5 separate regions of the Homo sapiens genome follow, and regions 1, 3, 4 and 5 are each reported to be linked to region 2. Evidence: microRNA targets listed by miRTarBase, many of them from high-throughput screens and not tested one by one. Region 2 holds a microRNA gene; each other region holds the end of a gene's coding sequence.

What was found. Region 2 holds the annotated microRNA hsa-miR-4447 (GGUGGGGGCUGUUGUUU, at 2,778-2,794, opposite strand). A microRNA usually pairs through its seed, bases 2 to 8, with sites in the 3' UTR of a target mRNA and lowers its output. Matches are read on the target gene's strand: a 7mer-m8 pairs with bases 2 to 8, a 7mer-A1 pairs with bases 2 to 7 and ends in A, and an 8mer does both.
Region 1: miRTarBase lists USP12 as a target of hsa-miR-4447. Seed matches in the 3' UTR shown: 7mer-m8 at 2,043-2,049.
Region 3: the mRNA of MIDN is a reported target of hsa-miR-4447. Seed matches in the 3' UTR shown: 7mer-m8 at 2,702-2,708 and 7mer-m8 at 2,200-2,206.
Region 4: miRTarBase lists SLC4A2 as a target of hsa-miR-4447. Seed matches in the 3' UTR shown: 7mer-m8 at 3,275-3,281.
Region 5: the mRNA of HSPA14 is a reported target of hsa-miR-4447. The part of its 3' UTR that is shown has no 7-base or 8-base seed match.

The regions. Positions count from the first base shown.
Region 1 is chr13:27,065,969-27,070,085 of GRCh38, forward strand. USP12 (ubiquitin specific peptidase 12) reads right to left here. Exons shown (of 9, transcript NM_182488.4): 9 at 188-3,416. The coding sequence ends at 3,315. Among named protein-coding and RNA genes, the nearest start is that of USP12-AS1, 58 kb to the right of the region's middle.
Region 2 is chr3:116,847,512-116,851,628 of GRCh38, forward strand. It overlaps MIR4447 (microRNA 4447), which reads right to left and starts at 2,856; the gene lies at 2,766-2,856. RefSeq lists enhancers at 1,278-1,912, 1,913-2,548.
Region 3 is chr19:1,256,685-1,260,801 of GRCh38, reverse strand. It overlaps MIDN (midnolin), which reads right to left. Exons shown (of 9, transcript NM_001388306.1): 9 at 1,659-3,807. The coding sequence ends at 3,530. Among named protein-coding and RNA genes, the nearest start is that of MIDN, 10 kb to the right of the region's middle. RefSeq lists a silencer at 1-641 and enhancers at 1,082-1,241, 1,662-1,811.
Region 4 is chr7:151,075,664-151,079,767 of GRCh38, reverse strand. SLC4A2 (solute carrier family 4 member 2) reads right to left here. Exons shown (of 23, transcript NM_003040.4): 21 at 3,993-4,104; 22 at 3,582-3,755; 23 at 3,245-3,481. The coding sequence ends at 3,401. It overlaps FASTK (Fas activated serine/threonine kinase), which reads left to right. Exons shown (of 10, transcript NM_006712.5): 2 at 1-268; 3 at 747-926; 4 at 1,067-1,206; 5 at 1,676-1,889; 6 at 1,988-2,147; 7 at 2,367-2,458; 8 at 2,532-2,667; 9 at 2,741-2,855; 10 at 2,936-3,144. The coding sequence ends at 3,043. Among named protein-coding and RNA genes, the nearest start is that of FASTK, 3.1 kb to the left of the region's middle. RefSeq lists enhancers at 1-616, 1,593-2,568, 2,569-3,544, 3,545-4,104 and a silencer at 2,687-2,766.
Region 5 is chr10:14,871,318-14,875,411 of GRCh38, forward strand. HSPA14 (heat shock protein family A (Hsp70) member 14) reads left to right here. Exons shown (of 14, transcript NM_016299.4): 14 at 211-424. The coding sequence ends at 289. It also overlaps a transcript of SUV39H2-DT not described here. Among named protein-coding and RNA genes, the nearest start is that of SUV39H2-DT, 5.3 kb to the right of the region's middle.

The DNA.
Region 1 (4,117 bases), not on the chromosome of region 2:
TGCTAAATAAATGCAGGCACATGTAGAATGTTGTTTTACACACATGCAATTCTGTTCTAGGGAAAATCTCTTTGGATACAGAAGTAGGAGCTTGGGCAAAAGCAGTAACACAGTTTCCAAAGTGTCTACTTCTAATCTGTAAATACATTTTAGGCAAAAAGGAAAAAACACACTTGAAACCCACAGGCACAAATAAACCAACTTTAATAGATATTATTTTGTATTTATATAGTGCCTTCTTCAAGAACCTTAAATGCTTTACAGACATTATCTCTAATTAATCCCCACAACAACCCTGTGAGGTAGGTATTACTCCCATTTTACAAGACAGGGAGACTGAAGCACAGAGAGGTTAAGTGACTTGCCCAAGGTCACACAGTTAAATTCACTGAAGAGCCAGGACATGAGCGCTTTAGCCTCCCAGCTCCCAGCCAAATACCTCATGATAGAATCTTTAATAAAAAGTGTTTTTAAAGAAAGTATCAAGAGTAGTTATGTTATGAAAATGAGGTCTTTCTACTGCCATCAAGGAAAGAAAAAACCCTATACTGATGGTTAGAGGCCCCAAGACCCACATAATACAACATTTCCCTCTTTCCCTGTTCCCAAGCCTCCTGGTTCCTGTCTTAAATAATCTTTTAAAGGTAAAATTTCCAAGACAGAAGCCATGTGACTTAAGAAGTGGGACTTAATTTAGAATATTTACTTTTAGTTACAATAATTTATAGAAATTTTTATTCCAATATACAAAATATGGGACAGCCATCCCAACAATCATGTACATAGTTACACGGCAATCAGCCACCACTTACAACTTACACCAGCCCCGCATTTTAATCACAGTCAACCAACATACAACCTCACGATGCTTTCTTCATGGGTCACTTTTCTTACTTACTATACCTGTATTTTTCCCCCAACCCTGACCCTATACGTTTTAAAAGTACATTTAGTTTCTGATAAACTTCAAAACATTTTACTTAGATCCAGCTGCATTAAGAAGAAAAAGTAAATGTAAAACTGTCACCCCACAATCCCTCCCCTGACAAATCATACTATGAAGTACGGTGTAGATGTGAACAAGTATGTGATTACCAGGAACTCAACACATACACTAGAACTTGCTTTAATATGAAATTTAACTTGGCTTTTACGGCATGTTTTTTTTTAATGCAAAAATGTAAAAACAAACACAACATAGTATTTCAATGCTGTACCTTTATGCAAATGACTTCATCTATCTTTCTTAAACATGTTGATATAGCTAATGTTAAAACTGACACAGCTTCACTTTCCTCTTTTTCTCTGTACCGAAAGCTGCAGAAATACAGCTTTAATTCCAAGACAATTTGGTTTAAGCCTTCAAAATAAAAAGAGTGCATCCACTTCCACTGCCCTGACTTTCCCCACACTGTTGATTGTGATTCTCTGTGGCATGTTGGTAGATCAGGCTGGCTTATATATAATTTGTACAAAACACCTCTAGCCAGGGTAAGGCTTTAGGAACTATCTTAAAAAGAAACTTGTCAAAATACTTTTTGATATTTTGTACAAATACTAAATATTATAATTTTCTCCCAGAACATCTGTTTAAGCAGCCCAATTAAGTGACTCTGTTAAAGGTCTGCTTATGGAAAAAATAGGTGAAGTCATTTCCTGAGCCAAAAGATACAGATAATAAATGTTAATAATAGCAGCAGACTAAAAAATTCCTTTTTGTTGTTTTCCATAGTCAACAGTTTTAGCAAAAGGACTTTAGAAAATGACAATTTTTTTTAAATTTACTGCCTGAAAAGAGTTTAATAAAGAACATCCAAGGCCTGATTGCTATTATTCTGAATATAATTTTCAATAATTTTCTGCAAGTTACATTTGGCTACTGTCAGACAACTTACTGATGCATGGAAAAACGTCCAAAAAAACTGCAATCGTTTACATATATTTTATGTTACATATATTACTTCTTAAAACCCCCAACAGAATGAAGTCTTAGCAAACACAGATTTTAATTTCTGAACACCCTTCCAGTAAGATTTGTAAAGGTGGGGGGAAGGGAAGGAAGGACTTGTCTTTTGTATTCCCGGTCTACTTGATTAAAATTTAATCTTTGAAGGGTTTGTTTAGCTCACTATCCAGGCTGCTAGGGTTATGATGAACATTATGACTTCTTTCCAGGGTAAAAAATGGCATCTGAAAATAACATAAATGCTATGACATGATTTTCCCAAGCATGATCTCAACTTGAAACATTAGAATACTTAAGAATTCTAAAGATTGGTATACCACCACTGCACCAGAATTTTTAATTATTCCAACAACTACAGGAATTTTTAAAATAGTTTTTTAATTTTATGAAATTAAAGCTGAAGAAAATAACTGATTTAGAAACCATAATAAAAGGACAAATATTTAGCCAGAGATATCAGTTCCTCCTGAAAAAGGATATTTATCTCCTCTCACTGCAGTTTTTCTCAAGGTATCTTAACTGATTTCAGATAGAAATTAAAATTCACCTTAAAAATAGAAACAAACAAAAGGACAACTTAAACTGACATTAACTAATAAAAATATGTTCAAATTTACTGACAGAATCATGGGCACTTCATATAATACTTAGACTCTACCAGTTTTAAGTAAAATAAATAAGGAAAAAATTATAATTACAAAGCCAGTCTTTCCCCTTGGGGAAACAAAAAGCCACTTTTGACCAATTGCTCCCTACATATACATATACTGTATATTATTATAAGCTTCTTCAGAGAAGCAAAACATCTTTGTCTTCCCGACACTGGATTATCTAGCATGTTAGTTTTTACATCAGGAAGGCAACTGCAAGTGTTGGGCCCAAAAGTATTTCTGGTTTACTCTTGAAAAGACCACTGAATATGCTTCTATACATACTGAACCAGGCAAATTTATGCAGTGTGTTCAACATCATCTCCTTATCAATACGGCACAGATTCCGATTCTTTCTACTGCACCCCCAAGGAATTCAAAGCATTATTGGTGCAATTAATAAAGAGAAAATGCGTGCCAATGACTGGAAGGCTGTTTTAAAAGAGGAGCTGGTATCTCTGATTTCACCTCCTTGTTGTATGGAACTGTACAGACAGCATGATACCTGAGCAAATAAATCAACTACCATGATCGGAAGGGCTTGTCAATCCATCGTCTTTGCTTTATCGTGTGCAAAGTGTGCTACTGCCCCCTGAGCTTCCTGCATTTCTCTTTTCTTGAAAAATCAGTGCTTGATCCTTTCCAAAATAACCAGAGAAGAAATGAGGCAGAAAGTGTCTCTTCATCACGGTTCCCTCTCAGTCCCGAGACTGATAGAAAAGGATGTAACCAGACTCAGAGTTCTTTGAGATATCTGATGTCAACCCGTAGAATTCTTCAATAGCTTGTGCATCTATTTTCTGTGAGGTAAAATGTAAACATTAGTACATAAATGAGCTCTGTACAGCCAGAATGGCTTAAATTTAAAAGACTGACAATACCAAGTATTTGGTGAAAATGTGGGGAAAATGGAACTCTCACACACAGCTGGCAGGGCACACCAAAAAAATGTTTATAAATACCTATCTTCTAAAGCTGAACATACAACTACCCTTTGATCCAGCAATTCTACTTCTAGGTACAGGATGAATTATATGAAACCACTAATAACTATTTTGGACCAACAAAATGGTAACTTCTAGGCTGGGCACACTGACTCACGCCTGTAATCCCAGTACTGTGGGAGGCCAAGGCGGGCAGATCACCTGGGGTCAGAAGTTCGAGACCAGCCTGACCAACGTGGAGAAACCCCATCTCTATTAAAAATACAAAATTAGCTAGGCGTGTTGGCGCATGCCTGTAATCCCAGCTACTCGGGAGGCTGAGGCAGGAGAATCGCTTGAACCCAGGAGGTGGAGGTGGTGGTGAGCCGAGATCGCACCCTTGCACTCCAGCCTAGGTAACAAGACTGTCTCCCAAAACAACAAAAAGGCAACTTCTAGTGGTCCAACCTAACATATATCCAAGAAAAATGAGTGTATACGTCCAGCAAAAGGCTTATAAAAGATGACCAATGCATTTTAATTCACAATAGTCATTAACTGACAAAAAGTCAAATTTC
Region 2 (4,117 bases):
TTGGACCCACCTAGATAATCCAGGATAATCTTTCCATCTCTTCACCTTTGCTTTAATTATATCTGCAAAATCCCTTTTGCAATATAAGATAAGATATTCACAGGTTCCAGGGACTAGGTTGTTGACATCTTCAGAGGTGGAGAAGGATATTATTCAGTCAAGCACACCAGGCAAGGCATTCTATACCAATCAGTTATTTGCCAGGTGACTTCAGTTACATGAGGGAGGTCAGTTGAGCCCAGTTGATTATTACTGCTCAATTAAACCCAAGCTAAATTACCAACGGGCAAAATATAGAGCTAAAATATGATTTCAGTTTTATGCTACTAAGTTTTGGAATGGTTTGTTATGCAGCAAAAGCTAACTGCTACAGGTAAAAAAAAAAATCAATTTTCAGAATTTCTATTTGAGAAAAAAGTAGGGTTATCCAGGTGGCCAAATTGGCAGGTAAAATGAGATTTCGGCTTGAGCTAGAAATTTAAGGTGAAATAAATGAACCTTGAATTAATAAGCAAAAAGCTTGAATTTGATTCCTTAAATACAAGTTCACATTAGTAGCCCTACACTTACCACCACAGGAGAAGTCAAGAACATGGGACTTTGAGATTCTCCTATTCCTCAGCATTTAATAATACTTTCTCTATCATAAAAGGGTGAGGCTGTACTTTCAGAAGAATGCATTGCTTCAAGATAGAGATTCTAGTTTCAGCCACTCTCTTCCAACTCAGAGCCTTATCTATAGGAGTTGTGATGATACAGTGAGAAACAGCATATGAAGAATTTATAATAGAGCCAGGCACAGAGTAAAACCATCAGCGAGTGTTCACTGTTGCTGTTATTATTATCTCTTCACAGGGCTTGTACACAGTTGATGGCTCATCATTACCCAAGAATCTACAGGCTACTGCTGCATAAGCCTTTGGAGTATCAGGTGTACATGCCCATGATAGCACTACCTTCTTTGACTTTTTAAAACTAATGGTCTCTTTGTTTCCTATTTGCTGTAGGAGCTTCCCTGTATTGTGCTAATTCTGCAAAGAATAGGAAAGTTGAAAAAGAAATGAACTAGGCTTCAAATCTTAGATGTGCTGAAAATGAGCTTTGTAATGTTAAACAAGTCAACCTCACTGTGTCTCTTTCTATGGATTCCAATGTTTGTGTGTTCTGCTTCACAGAGTAATTGTAAGGATCAAATGAATCAGTTAACCAATCAAGCCGAATAAATTGAGCACTAACGATGGCTTTAGCAGTGTGCTGGTTATTCTCAAAACTTAGATGTAAGTTGTTGCCAGACCCATCTTCAGAAGCTATACCTTTGCTTGTGCACACACTAATGAACTTGTACTAGTCATGATGTTCTTGAGCTAGTAATAATGCTCTAGCAAAAATAAAACGTACTTTCCACATTCTGAGGACATAATCCAAAGTAGCCTGCAATAAACACAGGCTAAACACTTTTTTAAAGATTTGCTTTTAATATTCAAAATTCCCTCAGAAGCATGATAAACAGAACACACATTTATAACTTTTCCTTCTGAAAATTTACAAAAATTAGAGTAAAGAAGTTAAAAGAAAAAAAAAAATCCTTCAATGCCTAAAGACAAAGAGAACTATAAACCAAAAATAAAATTCTAAGTCTCCTCAATCATCTAAATGGACCCCTCCTCTCGTCAAGGGCATTCCAGAGTTAACGTGAAAAACTAATACAGGCCATGATGGAAGAGGGGGTCAGACATGCCTCATTATATCCTCCTCCCTTTTGGAATTCAGGAAAAGCCAATCAGCATTAACATCAACACAGACTTTAAATGTGATAAGAAACATTTACATTCTTTTCTCTCTGAAGCCTGCTACTTAGAGGCTTCATCTGCATGATAAAACCTTGGTCTCCACAACCCCTTATTCTAGCCCAGCCATTCCTTTCTATTTATAATAGCTCTTTCAGCAAATTACCAATCAGAATATCTTTGAATCCAGCTATGATTTGGAATCCCCATCTCTACCTCACCCCCACTTCCAGCTGTCTCCACTCTTCCAGATTGAACCAATGTAAATCTCACATAGATTGCTTGATGTATTATGTCTCCTTAAAACGTATAAAGGCAAGGTGTACGTCAACCACCTTGGGCACATGTCAGCACCTCCTGAGGCTGTGTCATGGGCGTGTCCTTAACCTTGGCAAAGTAAACTTTCTAAATTGATTGAGACCTGTCTCAGATACTTTTTGGTTCACAGAAAAAACAAGAGACCAAATAACTGCAGTTAAGATGCATCAAGAAAATTTTGGAAGCTGGAAGCAGACAGACAATTCCTAACTGAGTTTAAAGAGAAAAGAAGAGTAAAATTATTCATTATAGAAACGAAGAAACCAGTTGATTTCCACCACAGAATTCAGGAAAGCTTCTGGACTTATAGACAACAGATACATCTAAAGATTCAATGGTGATAAAGATGTAAAGATTGGTTGAAAGCTGGTATGTGGTTAGAATCCTGCATCAACTCCTGCATAGTATGATAACTGCACTCCTCTTCTGGTCTCCCTCATACACAAATAGACACATGCCAGAAGAGGACAAGCCTCTTATTCAACATTGGAGAGATTGAATAACAGGGATTACTTTAGAACAGTAGGTCTCAACCATGTTCAATTTTGCTTCCCAAGGGATATTTGGCAATATGCCATGAAGACATTTTTGGTTGTCCCAACTTGTGGTGGGGTGTTTCTGGCATCTAGTGGGTAGAAGTCCAAGAAGGATTCTTCTAACATCCTACAATGCAAACAACAGCCCCCACCACAAACAATTATCTGACCCCAAGTATCAGTAGTGCAAATGATGAGAAACCATGCTCTAGAACACCAGAAAAAGCTGAGGATGGGAATGAAATATTAAAATCAGATGAATAAAATGAATATTACACACCGAACTGTGAGATCTGCATCTTGAATTATGAGGTCTTCCCCTTCCCTTTATTCACCTAGTTGTATCTCTGAGAAACCCAATCATTTGCCTTATATATTCCAGGCAATAGATCTGAGGCTTCCTTTTTGAGGGAAATCACTGTTTAAAAGAAAAGACCTGTGGATGCCCATAGCAGGGAGGTCTCTCTCCAGCTGACCACTCTACAGTGAAGCCTGCCATGCTAAGCCATCTCCAGTCAGAATTGTAGAATTGTGATAACTTGTTCCTAAATATAAATGCATAGCAAAGGATTAGCAGATATTAAGGAAGGCTTATAACATGAAAGTTATACCCCTGATATGGTTTGAGTTTGAGTACCTGCCCAATTCTCATGTGAAATTGTAATCTCCAGTATTGGAGGAGGGGGTCTAGTAGGAGGTGATTGGATCATGGGGCCGTTTCTAACGGCTTAGCACTATTTCCCTAGAGGTGTCTTCTGATAGAGTTCTCCCCAGACCTGCTTGTTAAAACGTCTGTAGCACCTCCCCACTATCTTCTTCCTCCTGCTGGCCACATAAGATGTGCTTGCTTCCCCTTTGCCTTCCACCATGATTGTAAGTTTCCTGAGGCCTCCCCAGAAGCAGAAGTCTGTACAGCCTGTAGAGCCATGAGCCAATTAAACCTCTTTTCTTTATAAATTACCCAGTTTCAGGTATGTCTTTATAGAAGTGTGAGAAGAGACTAACACAATACCCAAACAGAGAGACCAAAAAAAAAAAAAAAAAAAGAAAAAAAAGAGGAGAGAGAAACTCAAAATAACCATAGATAATATAAATGAAATTTCTTAGGAAGATTAACTAAAAAATCATGAGGTTTTTAATAACTGCCGTAAATATTCACCAGGGCCTACTTTTGTAGCTACTACTTTTTTCTTGTTATTTCCTACATAAATATTGTTTATATTAATTTATATCTCATTCTACAGAGAATTTCATCCAAGTATTTTGTACAAGTAATTAGAGAAATATGTATGCAATATAGACAGGCACAAAAGGAAAATCAGTACAAAAAGAAAATAAAAATACCATGTTAACCAAGTCAACAGAGAAGTTATAATTTAACTTCAAATTGACTTCAGACATTCTATAATTTCTTCAATAATTTGTTAGAAATGAATGAAAAAGGGAGGTTGTGAATAACTGTAACATGGAATTTCT
Region 3 (4,117 bases), not on the chromosome of region 2:
GAAGGGAGCGATCCAGGGCCGACCCCGCCCCGCGAGATCCCAGCGGTCCCTGCCCTCTTTGTGCCTCAGTTTACCTCTCCGTGCTTCCCTACGCACACTTGGCCTCCGCCTGCCGCCCCTCCGCCCGCTGCACCCCTGGTTGGGCTGACCCTACCAGGCCAGGGCTCTGAGCCTGGAGCTCCATACCCCACCCCACGCCCCCAGGGCACAGCCTTGACCCCTGGGATCCCCAGTCTGGGGTGGGGGTCGGCATCCCGAGGGGCGGGTCCTGGAGTGCAGGGGACGCGCCCCCCACCCTGCAGGCTACAGACACAGCCCCTGTGATTCAGCAGGTGCTTCAGACAACATCCTCCTTCCTCCTTCCCACCCCGCCCAGCGAGGGGGCGGTGGCGCCCTGGGGCCCTCGCCTTGACCCCAGGCCTGGCGTCGGTGACCCGCACCCCCACCCTGAGCCCCGAGGGGACATCCGCACCAGGGACGGGGCGGGGGGTGGGTGCCGCCTGACTGGGCATCCGCCTTCCTGCCGTGGGCGTGCGATGATTTGGGGTTGACTGGGCGTTGGGAGGGGCAGAGGGGTCTCAGGAAGGTGCTCCCAGGCCACTCTCTGAACCTGTGCCCCTTCCCCTGGGGGCTCCCGGTACTGGGGCCCCTAGAGATGGGATAAGGGGTGGAGGTCACATCATTGAACAAACACCCCAAATCCTCTGGGCCAAGTGATGTTCCTCTTTGGGCCTCTGTTCTCCCATCTATAAAATGGGAGCCCAATTACTTCTCATAGGCAACTCTTGTTACCTGAGGAAATACAGGTTACAAAATTTAAAAAAAGACATGAAATAGTGTTATTGCCTCATCTCTGCCCAGCCCGGACATGGGTGGAGGTGGGACCCCAGAGAGGACTCAGTCCTGGTGAGGCTCACGGGGAGCTCCAGGCTAGGGACAGAGAGAGGGAAGGGTGGGGTCTGCGGGACGGGGTGGACAGGGGTGGAAGGCGCAGGCTGGGGAAGTTCCCAGACAGCAAGGGACAGCCGGACCAGGGGTGTTCCTAGACAGGGGGCAAAGGCCGGGAGGTTTGGAGCTGAAGGCCAGGTCTGGGAAGGGCTGGAATGTCAGGAGGTGTGGCCAGAGAGGCCCCCCAGGGCTGGGTCAAGCCAGGCCTGTATCACCTGCCAGCCCAAGGTACCCTGCGGAGTCCTAGGTCCTCCCAGTCGGCCTGGTGATCTCCCTGCAGCAAGCCACACAGATGTGAGACTCCAGGAAGGGGAGCAGGTGGGTGTGGCAGAGTGGGAGTCCCCGACTCCTGTGGCTGGGGAGAGCTGGTGGTCGCGTCTCCCCCATACTGGCAGGTCCTGAGGGGGCCAGGGTCCTGCCCAGGCCACGAAGCAGGCAGGCAGGCCCTCGCCCCACACCCTAAGGGACTTCCGGCCTTGGGTACCAGGAAGTGGCTGGGCTCCTCCCTCCCACCCTGGCTGCTTCCTGCCCACCCGGCAGCCGGGGAAGGAGCGTGGGAAATTCTCAGGGCCCTGACCCCTGCCCCACCCCCTCTTCGGGGCCTTGGGACCCAGGTCAGTCCCTCTGACTCCCTGAGCTGACATCCCACCCCAGGAACCCTCCCAACCAAGGCCAGATCCCCCCACTAGGCGAGCAGGCGGGAGTCAATGTGTGTTTCATTTTCTGTTTATTACTTGAAATCACGGTGCTCGTGTAGGTTTTTTTTTTTTTTTCAATTTTATGTTTTCATACATGAAACTCACGCCAGGTGCCGGGACCCCCACAGCCCGACCCCCCGAGGGCGGGTAATGCTTTCTTGGGCAGCCCTTACCGGGCAGAGGGTGGCGAGCCGGTTCCTGCCTGGAGGTTCCACCCTCAACCAGTGGAGGCACAGACGTTATTTAAAAATCGTTAAAAAACAAAACAGAACACACATTTAAATAGGTATCCAAGACAGTTCTTCAAAAAACAAACCCGCCCCTTTTACTCCTTTTTTTTCTATTTTTTTTTCTTTTTTTTTTGGAAAAATGAAAACAAAACAAAACCCAAAATCCTTGAGCTCTACCCTCTGGGACCCCTCCCTGCCCACCCTCCCACAAAAAAATTTACAGCGCTACAGTTATAACACGTGATGTTCACATCTGAAACCATTAACTTTCAACACATAAAGGGGGGGAGTTGAGGACCTGGGGTTCACCTACGAGAACAACGGTGGGGGACAGGCAGAGCCAGGACAAGACCGACAGGTGGGGTGAGGAAGGGTCCAGACATCTCCATTATCATTAAAAAATAAAAAGTGAGTGGGGAAAAAAATCCAAAAACTACCCCATTGAAATGGCCCCAGTAGGGGATTTGTCCCTCCCCTCTGGAGACAGACACCCCTAGGGCAGGGGCACTGAGAGGCAGGGGGTCCAAATTAGACCAGCAGCGGACCCCGCCACGGGGGTTAATGCTACACGGAGTTGTCGCCCCCTGCCCAGGGGATTCACAGCTCAGCACCCCCTCCCATCCTCGCTGCAGGAGGGGCCCCCAGACAGTCCCAAATCCACATCCCTCAGGTTGGGCCGGGAAGGAGGGCTCGGAGGGGGGAACTCCCCAGCACCCAGCCATTCTCTCCCCTTTTTCAAGAGTTCCCCAACCACTATTGGCTCAGTCAGAAAATTAATAGTCTATAAATACCCCAAACTCAGGCAGGAGGTCAGAAAACACGGGAGTGGGGGCGGAGGAAACAGCACAGTCCGCCGGCTGGGGCGGGGCGGAGGGCAGGCTGGGGGGGTAGTTCCCCTCTCCCTTCCCGACAGGAAAGGGTGCCATGCCCCTGCACCCAAACCCCATGGGGACCTCAGCCCCAGCCTCTGCTAAAACAGCTTTGCTCTCCTTGTTAAAGAAATGAAGGAAAATGCAAAAAAAAGATCAAGAAAAGAGGATAGGAGTGGAAGAGAAACAGTCCCCTCGTTGGCTTCTGTGACCTGTTGGCTTGCTGTAGCCCAGTGGGCGCTGCTGGCCTGGGGTGGAGACCCCGAAGTCTGCACTGGGGGGTGGGGTGGGTTCTGCGCACTGCGGCCCCTCCCCTCATCTGTAAAGTGCATAATGACATATCGACATTTTTGACTTAAAACCTGAATAGGGTCGGGGGGGAAAGGAGGCGGCGGAAGGGATGGGGCGCGTTTCTCCGTCTCCTTCACTCTCCGCCATCCAGAGAGACTGCTACATATTGGAGCTGGGGAAGGTTGGCAGGGAGGACCGACCTGGCGCAGAGGTGAAAGGAGACAGACGGAGGAGGAGGAGGAGGAGGAAGAGGAGGGCAGGAGTGAAGGGTGAAGGAGGTAGGAAGCAAAGCCCATGAAGAGTCCAGGAAACCACGGTCAGAACTTTTTAAAAAAAGAAAAAAATAATAAAAAAGAAGAAAAGAAAAAAAGACTTCTGGCTGGGGGAGTGGCCGCCTGCCCTCCAGGGCTGGGCCACGTTCTCTCCGGGGCTCTCGGAGTCCCCGCCGCCCTGGGCTGGGGTGCGAGGGGCGAGGGTGGCCGATCCGAAGATCCTAAGCCACCACGAACTCTGACTTGATGTCAGGGTTGACTTCTGGCTTCCACACGGAGTCCTCGAAGTCGAGGCCCAAGCCGGAGGCCTCGCTGGGGCTGCCGCCGCCCCCGCTGCTACTGCTGTCGCTGCGGCCGGCCTTGCGGCTGGGTGACCAGTGGTACGGACCCCGCGCGTCCCGCCGGGCCTTTCTACGGAGCCGTTTCTGCTGCAGAAGCAGCTGCAGCCGTTCCACCTTGCAGCGCGTGGCGCGGTTTTCTGTCTGCCGAAGCCGGTCCCCTGCAAAGGAGGTAGTGGCCTGTGACTCCCAAAGCCTCCACCTGCTGAACACAGAGGACCACCCCAGACCCCAGCAAATGCCCCTGAGGTCAGACACAGTCCTGCCCTCCCTGGAGGGAGGTCAGCAAAGGAAACAGTCAAGGACATCCACCATGCCGGGCACAGTGGTTCACGCCTGTAATCTCAGCACTTTGGGAGGCCGAGGCAGGAGAATCGCTTGAGCTCAGGAGTTCGAGACAGGCCTGGGCAACCTCAGGAGTTCGAGACAGGCCTGAGCCACAGAGCGAGACCCCTCCTCTACAAAAATTAC
Region 4 (4,104 bases), not on the chromosome of region 2:
GGTCCTGTGCAAGGACTGCAGCGGCTTCTGGAACAGGCGAAGAGCCCTGGGGAGCTGCTGCGCTGGCTGGGCCAGAACCCCAGCAAGGTGCGCGCCCACCACTACTCGGTGGCGCTTCGTCGTCTGGGCCAGCTCTTGGGGTCTCGGCCACGGCCCCCTCCTGTGGAGCAGGTCACACTGCAGGACTTGAGTCAGCTCATCATCCGAAACTGCCCCTCCTTTGACATTCACACCATCCACGTGTGTCTGCACCTTGCAGTCTTACTTGGTGAGGAGGGGCTTGAGGTGGGCGCCTGGGGGGCTAGGTGTTAATGAAGAATAGGGAGAACAGTAGAGGACCACGGACAGAGACCCAGCCTCTCAGGCGTTTGCCCAGGAACGCTTGCTCCTGCTCCCGTCCTATGTCTGCGGCAGACATCATGAGTCGAACGCACTCCTTCCGGCCTCGCTAGGGTGCCACCCCAGATTCCTGCTAATAGAGTGCCCTAGGAAGCCACCATAATTTGTCACAATTGGTATGAGATGAAAGCCTATTTGCCATCTTTGTATGTACTCCCTACAAACCGTTTCGATACCTCATAGCCACATGATACTTTACATGTCTCTAGTGTTTGCACTTAAACTCTAGCACACCTTCCCGCTCAGGAAACGGGAGAGGAGAAAGGTGGAGAATTCACCAAGTAACCCCATGATAAGAACAGCAGCACAGCTCTGTTACCAGGCTGCCTTTTACCTCTCCCCCTCAGGCTTTCCATCTGATGGTCCCCTGGTGTGTGCCCTGGAACAGGAGCGAAGGCTCCGCCTCCCTCCGAAGCCACCTCCCCCTTTGCAGCCCCTTCTCCGAGGTGGGCAAGGGTTGGAAGCTGCTCTAAGCTGCCCCCGTTTTCTGCGGTATCCACGGCAGCATCTGATCAGCAGCCTGGCAGGTGCTGGAGGGGGTTAAAATCAGATGGGGGTGGGGAGGGCTGACAGGAGGAGGAAGGTGGGCTCAGTTGGCTGGGCTGAGGTGGAATTGAGCCAGCCGGAGGTCCGGCTGAGGCCCAGCGTGACAGGCTGCTCTTCACAGAGGCAAGGCCAGAGGAACTGACTCCCCACGTGATGGTGCTCCTGGCCCAGCACCTGGCCCGGCACCGGTTGCGGGAGCCCCAGCTTCTGGAAGCCATTGCCCACTTCCTGGTGGTTCAGGAAACGCAACTCAGCAGCAAGGTGGGCTTGCCACCCACCCTCCAGTGCATCTCTGTCATTCTCAGGGACCTTGTCAGGCCCAGCGCCTCGTGCAGCTCGGCTATCCTTTTCCTGAAGCAGACACACCCTCTCTGTCCCCTGGGACCTGCATCTTTTCTACACCCTTTCTGTGGCTTGCCCACCTCCTGTCAGCAGCATGCATTCCTGGAAATCTGCAGTTTCCCAAAGCACTCTTAGCAGCATCCTAGCTCCACCCATCCCTCTCGAAGTCTTCAGGGCCAGACCCCACAGCGATGTCCCCTCTGCCTGTCTGGTGATTAGTCACGTGCAGCTCGTGACTGCTTTGCTGTTGAACTGTGAGGCCGGAGGGACTGTCCTGTCTTTACAGCAGTGTTGTAAACCTGAGGGCTAAGCCTCTCTAAGGCTTAGCTTGTAAAAGATGACTGCAGAAATACTTGACACTGGGTAATGAACTGCTCTTCCTCCACAGGTGGTACAGAAGTTGGTCCTGCCCTTTGGGCGACTGAACTACCTGCCCCTGGAACAGCAGTTTATGCCCTGCCTTGAGAGGATCCTGGCTCGGGAAGCAGGGGTGGCACCCCTGGCTACAGTCAACATCTTGATGTCACTGTGCCAACTGCGGTGCCTGCCCTTCAGAGCCCTGCACTTTGTTTTTTCCCCTGGCTTCATCAACTACATCAGTGGTACGCAGCCAGGATGGCTGGCTGGGCCCCTGAGGGCTGGAGAGGCAGGGGAGCAGGGTGGCCTGCAGCCCAGAGCCCCAGTCCCCGCCTCCCCACAGGCACCCCTCATGCTCTGATTGTGCGTCGCTACCTCTCCCTGCTGGACACGGCCGTGGAGCTGGAGCTCCCAGGATACCGGGGTCCCCGCCTTCCCCGAAGGCAGCAAGTGCCCATCTTTCCCCAGCCTCTCATCACCGACCGTGCCCGCTGCAAGTACAGGTGGATGGGGCAGCCTGGGGCAAGGGGAGGGGCCAGCCTGGGACCAGCAGAGTGGAAAAGCCAGAGGGACCATGAAGCGCCAAAGCTAAGGAGCTCTCGGCCACCATAAAACTGGGCCCTGAAGCAGCAGAGGGCTTTGCCCAGGGTGGTGGCACTAGACTGGGACAGATTAGGATGAGGTGCCGGGCCCTTCCTGCTACTGGTGTCCTTTCTCCTCAGTCACAAGGACATAGTAGCTGAGGGGTTGCGCCAGCTGCTGGGGGAGGAGAAATACCGCCAGGACCTGACTGTGCCTCCAGGCTACTGCACAGGTGAGCAAGGGGCAGGCGGCAGGCCCGGGGAGACGGAGCCCTGGCTAAGGCCGCCGGCCCTGCTCCCCTCCAGACTTCCTGCTGTGCGCCAGCAGCTCTGGTGCTGTGCTTCCCGTGAGGACCCAGGACCCCTTCCTGCCATACCCACCAAGGTCCTGCCCACAGGGCCAGGCTGCCTCTAGCGCCACTACTCGAGACCCTGCCCAGAGGTAAAGGAGGCAGGGTGGGGGAGCCCTGGCCACCTTGCCCGCCATGCCCTGAGCCACGTCCCTCCCCCTGCAGGGTGGTGCTGGTGTTGCGGGAACGCTGGCATTTCTGCCGGGACGGCCGGGTGCTGCTGGGCTCGAGGGCCCTGAGGGAGCGGCACCTAGGCCTGATGGGCTACCAGCTCCTGCCGGTGAGTGGCCCTGGCCTGGCCCGTGGCGCATCCTCACTCCCAGCCTGCGGGTAACCTGCCGCCCTCTCCTCTCCCCACAGCTACCCTTCGAGGAACTGGAGTCCCAGAGAGGCCTGCCCCAGCTCAAGAGCTACCTGAGGCAGAAGCTCCAGGCCCTGGGCCTGCGCTGGGGGCCTGAAGGGGGCTGAGGGGTTGATGTGGGGTTCAGGATGGCCCCCCCATGGGGGGTGGATGATTTGCACTTTGGTTCCCTGTGTTTTGATTTCTCATTAAAGTTCCTTTCCTTCCCCGTTGTGAATCTCAGTTTTGGGACGGGGAGCAGAGCTGAGTCCCCCGCCTCTTCCATTCATGCCCCGCCCCCCATACAAAGACAAAAGGCCACAGATAGGTGGGGGCCAAAGCACTTTACTGCAGGGGCAGTGGGGGAGGAGAAGACTTTAAATTATTCACTTAAATAAAAAGGAGGGAGGGGCATGGGAGGGGGAACCCCATCCCACCAGCCTGTCCCCTCGTCCATCGGTCCCTCGGCTGTCCCTCGGTGGCGGCTACACAGGCATGGGCATCTCATTGTACTCGTCCACACCCTCCCGCTCATCAAACACCGGCTCTGCCTCGTTAGCATCCAGCTGTGTGTGGGGAGGTGGCGGTCAAGAAGGGAAGTGGGGGGGCCTTTCCAGATCCACAGGGAGGCAAGAGGAACCGGGGGAGGCAGACGGGAGGGCTTACACATTTCATCTCTCGGTCGGTGAAGATACGGGTGAGCACCACCATGCGGAGCGGCACTGTGAGGATGAGGATGAAGGGGAAGGCCAGGGAGGCAGCTGTGGACATGACGGCCCAGAGCAGGGCCAGGCAGAGCAGCTGCAGGGCCGTGAACAGGTGCATACGGAGGGTCCGGACCTGGGGGGCGGAGACAGGTGAGCCCAGCTTCCTCCCTAGCCTGCTGCTGGGAAGAGCCTCTCTCTTCTTCGGAGGCGGGGATGGAAGAACATTCCTAGGTGCCAGAGCTGGGTTGGTACAGAGAGGAGGTGGGGGCTGGCTGAACTGGGCAGATGGGAGGGGGCAGCTGGAGAGTGACCCAAGTAGACCAGGATGGCCAGAGGCACACCCCTTCCGGTGGGGAGCTGGGGGGCTCACCTTCTTGACGTAAGTGACATCTGGGTGGTGTTTGGGCGGCATGAGCAGCAGATGCAGCCGCTCATAGAACTGGATCCCGTTAAGGGAGGTGACTCCCATGTACAGGAAAATT
Region 5 (4,094 bases), not on the chromosome of region 2:
GAAGTTCCTAATAACAACTAGCTAAATATAACATATGACACTTACTAAATTTAGAGACACTGAGATTGTGTTTATTCTTTACATTAATACCCTTCTTTTGAAAATTAAAATTAACCCTTGTTTACTGAAAGCCCTCAAGTAACTTGTTACAGACTTTATGTTTTTATAAAATGAGCTTGTGCAATGTTCTTTATTTTTTTGTCTGTTTAGGGATGGATCTTTACATGTGACATGCACAGATCAAGAAACTGGAAAATGTGAAGCAATCTCTATTGAGATAGCATCTTAGTGTTTTAGAGAAATCAAGAATTTTTAAAAACAAGAATATCAACATTTGGTTTTGTGTATAAGTGGTGTTTGTATTAAAATACTTTTTCAATGAACTGTATAAACTATGTTTTATTAAACTACAATATATCAGTAAGTGTTGCAACCCTTTGTTTTTGACGTACAGTAACCTCTTATTACTGGGAAATATAAGGAAGTTTTTTTTTTTTTTTATCATGAAGCTGTTTAGAATTAAACTGAGTTGGTTAAAGAATTTTCTATAACATTTAATTTGTAAAAGTCTTCTATTGATTCTTGTTAGATAACCAAGAGAACAATTAAAAGTCATTGACATTAATTGAAAAAAATTTCAGGACCACATAGAAAGTAAGATGCCTTTTTTTGTTGGTTTTTGTTTTTAGAGACAGGATTTTGCACTGCCACCGAGGCTCAAGTGCAGTGGTGGGATCATATCTCACAGCAGCCTCGAACTGCTGGGCTCAAGCAGTCTTCCTGCCTTAGCCTCCCTTGTAGCCGGGACTACAGATGTGCACCATCACACCTGGCAATTTTTTTTTTTTTTTTTTTTTTTTTGGAGAGACGGGTCTTGCTATGTTGCCCAGGATGGTCCCAAACTGCTGGTCTCAAGCAGTCCTCCCGCCTTAGCCCCACAAAGTGCTGGGATTACAGGCATAAGCGACAGCCATTTTTTAAGTAAACTGATAAACTCAACAACTAGGAGAGGGGCTTTTACTTTTTACAGTTTTGTTTAGTTTATTTCTTCCAACAAACATGTTTTTCTTTTGAAATTAAAAGATCTCTTTAGGGCTGGGCACGGTGGCTTACACCTGTAATTCCAGCACTTTGGGAGGCAGAGATGGGAGGATCACTTGAGGCTAGGAGTTCCAGACCAGCCTGGCCAACGTGGTGAAACCCCATCTCTACTAAAAATACAAAAAATTAGTTGGGCGTGGTGGTGTGCGCCTGTAGTCTTAGCAACTCCTGAGACTGAATCCCTTGATCCCAGGAGGCAGAGGTTGCAGTGAGCCGAGATCACGCCACTGCACTGCAGCCTGGGTGACAGAGTGATACTCCATCTCAAAAAAAGAAAAAAAAAATCTCTTTAGTTTGAAGAGAAGGCTAGCCACATTCTGTTTACCAGAGAATATTCACTAGAGCCCTGAGATCCTCAGTGGGTTCCAGTGAAAACTTATTCATGTTGGCTGCTATGGAGTTAGTTGGTAGTACCCTTCTAAAAGTTTTTAAAGATCCAGAAACCAAACTTAAATTTTTTCATCATTATTTTGCATCAAATTATTGACAGAACCATGAAGAGAATTCAGATATGATTTTAAGTCCACAGAGTCTTTAAATACAGAAGCAGCTTTAAAGGTGTACTCTTTGTCCTAAGTTATTAGTTATTTCTTAGGATCTTTTTCCAAAGTCATAGAAAATTTGAAATAAAAGTGATTTTGGTATAAGCAATTCAGTGGCTTCAGAACACAGGAAAACACCAACTGAACTAGTTCTACTGCTAGGTCTACATGCTTTCAATTATGCTTTGAAAAACTTTTAGGATTTTATTTTGTGGTTATTGTTAGCTTTTAAAATAGATCTGGGGTGCCAAACTATGGCCAGTGAGTCAGATCTATCTCACCCCTGTTTTCATAGATAAAATTTTATTAGAACACAGTCACACTCTAATTGTATATGGGCTGGCTGTGGCGGTTTTCACATTAGAGTGGCAGAGATGAATAGTTGCACAAAGGCTGTGTGGCCCACAAAGCTTAAAATATTTACTGTCTGGCCTTCTACATAAAAAATTTGACACCTAAAGTACATTATTGAAACTTATAGAATAAAATAACTTCTTCTAAAGTTTTCTGCTATATTTATGTAATGCTTTACTTATTGGCTCCTTTCCCCACTAGATTATTAAGCATTGTGAGAGCAGATACTCTCAGTCTTAGTCACCATTTTGCCTCAGCCCCTACAACAGTACGTGAGCATAGTGGGTGTTCCTAAGTGCTTATCAAATAAATGAATTATGTGGAAGAAAAAATAATGTCATGTTTGTATGCTACAGGACAATGGCCAGTGAGTAGTACATCTGTTGTATATTTTATGGTTTGTTTAGAAACATAAGGAAGGAAAGGAATAGCACTGCTGACTTTATTGGTCAGCTTTGCATGTTTGTTTGGTTGTTTTCCCCTAGACTTATCAAATTTGAAATTGTCATCAATAAGTCCTCTACTGCCTAATGAAATTCTTCCACATTTTTTCGTACCCTCAGGTGATAAGTTTTTTCCTTGTGAATTTTTGAAAGATTTGCTGACAAAATTTTCTAGTGTTTTTTTATTTTTCAAGGTGAAAATAGCTTTAAATTTTTTGTTTGTAAGAATGATACATAGTCAATATAAAATTCAAATTCCAAAAGAAAAAAATATAAAACATTCTTTATTCTACCATCCAGAATAGTAACTATAAAGATTTTTGGTGAGTACCTTGATAATCTTTTCATGTACATCCTAGTTATCTTTGTTATATGTATGTCGTAGCAAAGATAATTGGGATGTACATGAGATACATGCAATTTATACTCATGAAATGTAAATATATTTCATGAAGTTTAAATATGTATATATTTAAATGTGGGGAAAGTAGTCAAGTAAGTGAAGTATTACATAAATATGGAAGAAAAGTTTTGAAGAAGTCATTTTATTGTGGAAGTTTCAATAATCTACCTCGGGTCAAGTTTTTTATATAAAAGGCCAGATAGTAAATATATACATATTTAAACTTAAACACTTTTACCACTAAAAGCTTATGTCAAATTATAGTTTTGCCTATTTACATCTGACATTGTCTGAAGAACAGAGCCAAATATAAAAATAGGAAGAAATACCTATGATGTGAAAGTCTTGGAACGTGTCTTAGTTTGGACTGCTATAATAAAGTACCATAGTCTGGGGGGTGGCTTGTAAACATCAGAAATGTATCATAGTTCTGGAGGCTGGAAGTCAGTTCGGGTGCTGGACCAGGCTGGAAGCGGGGCCGGGTTCTGATGAGGGCTCCCTTTTGGGTTGCCAGCTATCCTTATAACCTCACACGGAGGATAGAGGGCGAGAGAGCTCTGAAGGGTCCCTCTTGTAAGGGTGTCAATCCCATGCATGCAGCCTCCACCTTCATGATTTAATCACCTCCCAAAGGCCCCACCTCCCAATATAATCACTTTGGGGGCGAGGATTTCAACACTGGAATTTTTCAGAGATGAAAACGTTCAGTCCTTAACAGGAGGTCACAAAATATTCATCACAAACTGAAAGCTTTTATATGTATAAGAATTCTTAAAAGTATCCTAGCATAAAAGTTCTATGGGAAAAATCACAATATCTAAAATGATAATGAGTGACCATATAATACTGTTATTTGCTTTAATTCATTATCTCATTTTAAAATTTTGATCTCATCACAATTCCACGAGTAGTTGTACTATGTAGAGAGTAATATGGCCTTGGTTATTTCTGTTTTCCAGATAATAGATTCACAGCAGTTAAATAAAGTATCCAAGGTCTCACAGTGAATAAATGGTGGATTTTGAACTAACATTCAGATGCTTATTTTGTAAACTTAATTTTTCTTGACTGCTTACTATTTTAAGCACATTACATGGATTATTTCATTTAAATTCACATTCTTAATCTAGTGTTCATTCTATGATTCTTTGCCTCTCAGAAGAGAACGTTTATTTCAGTAGAAGAGGAGACACTCCAGAAATCATGTGGTCTTTGTGAAAAAAATACTGGGAAAGGGTCATGATTCTCTAC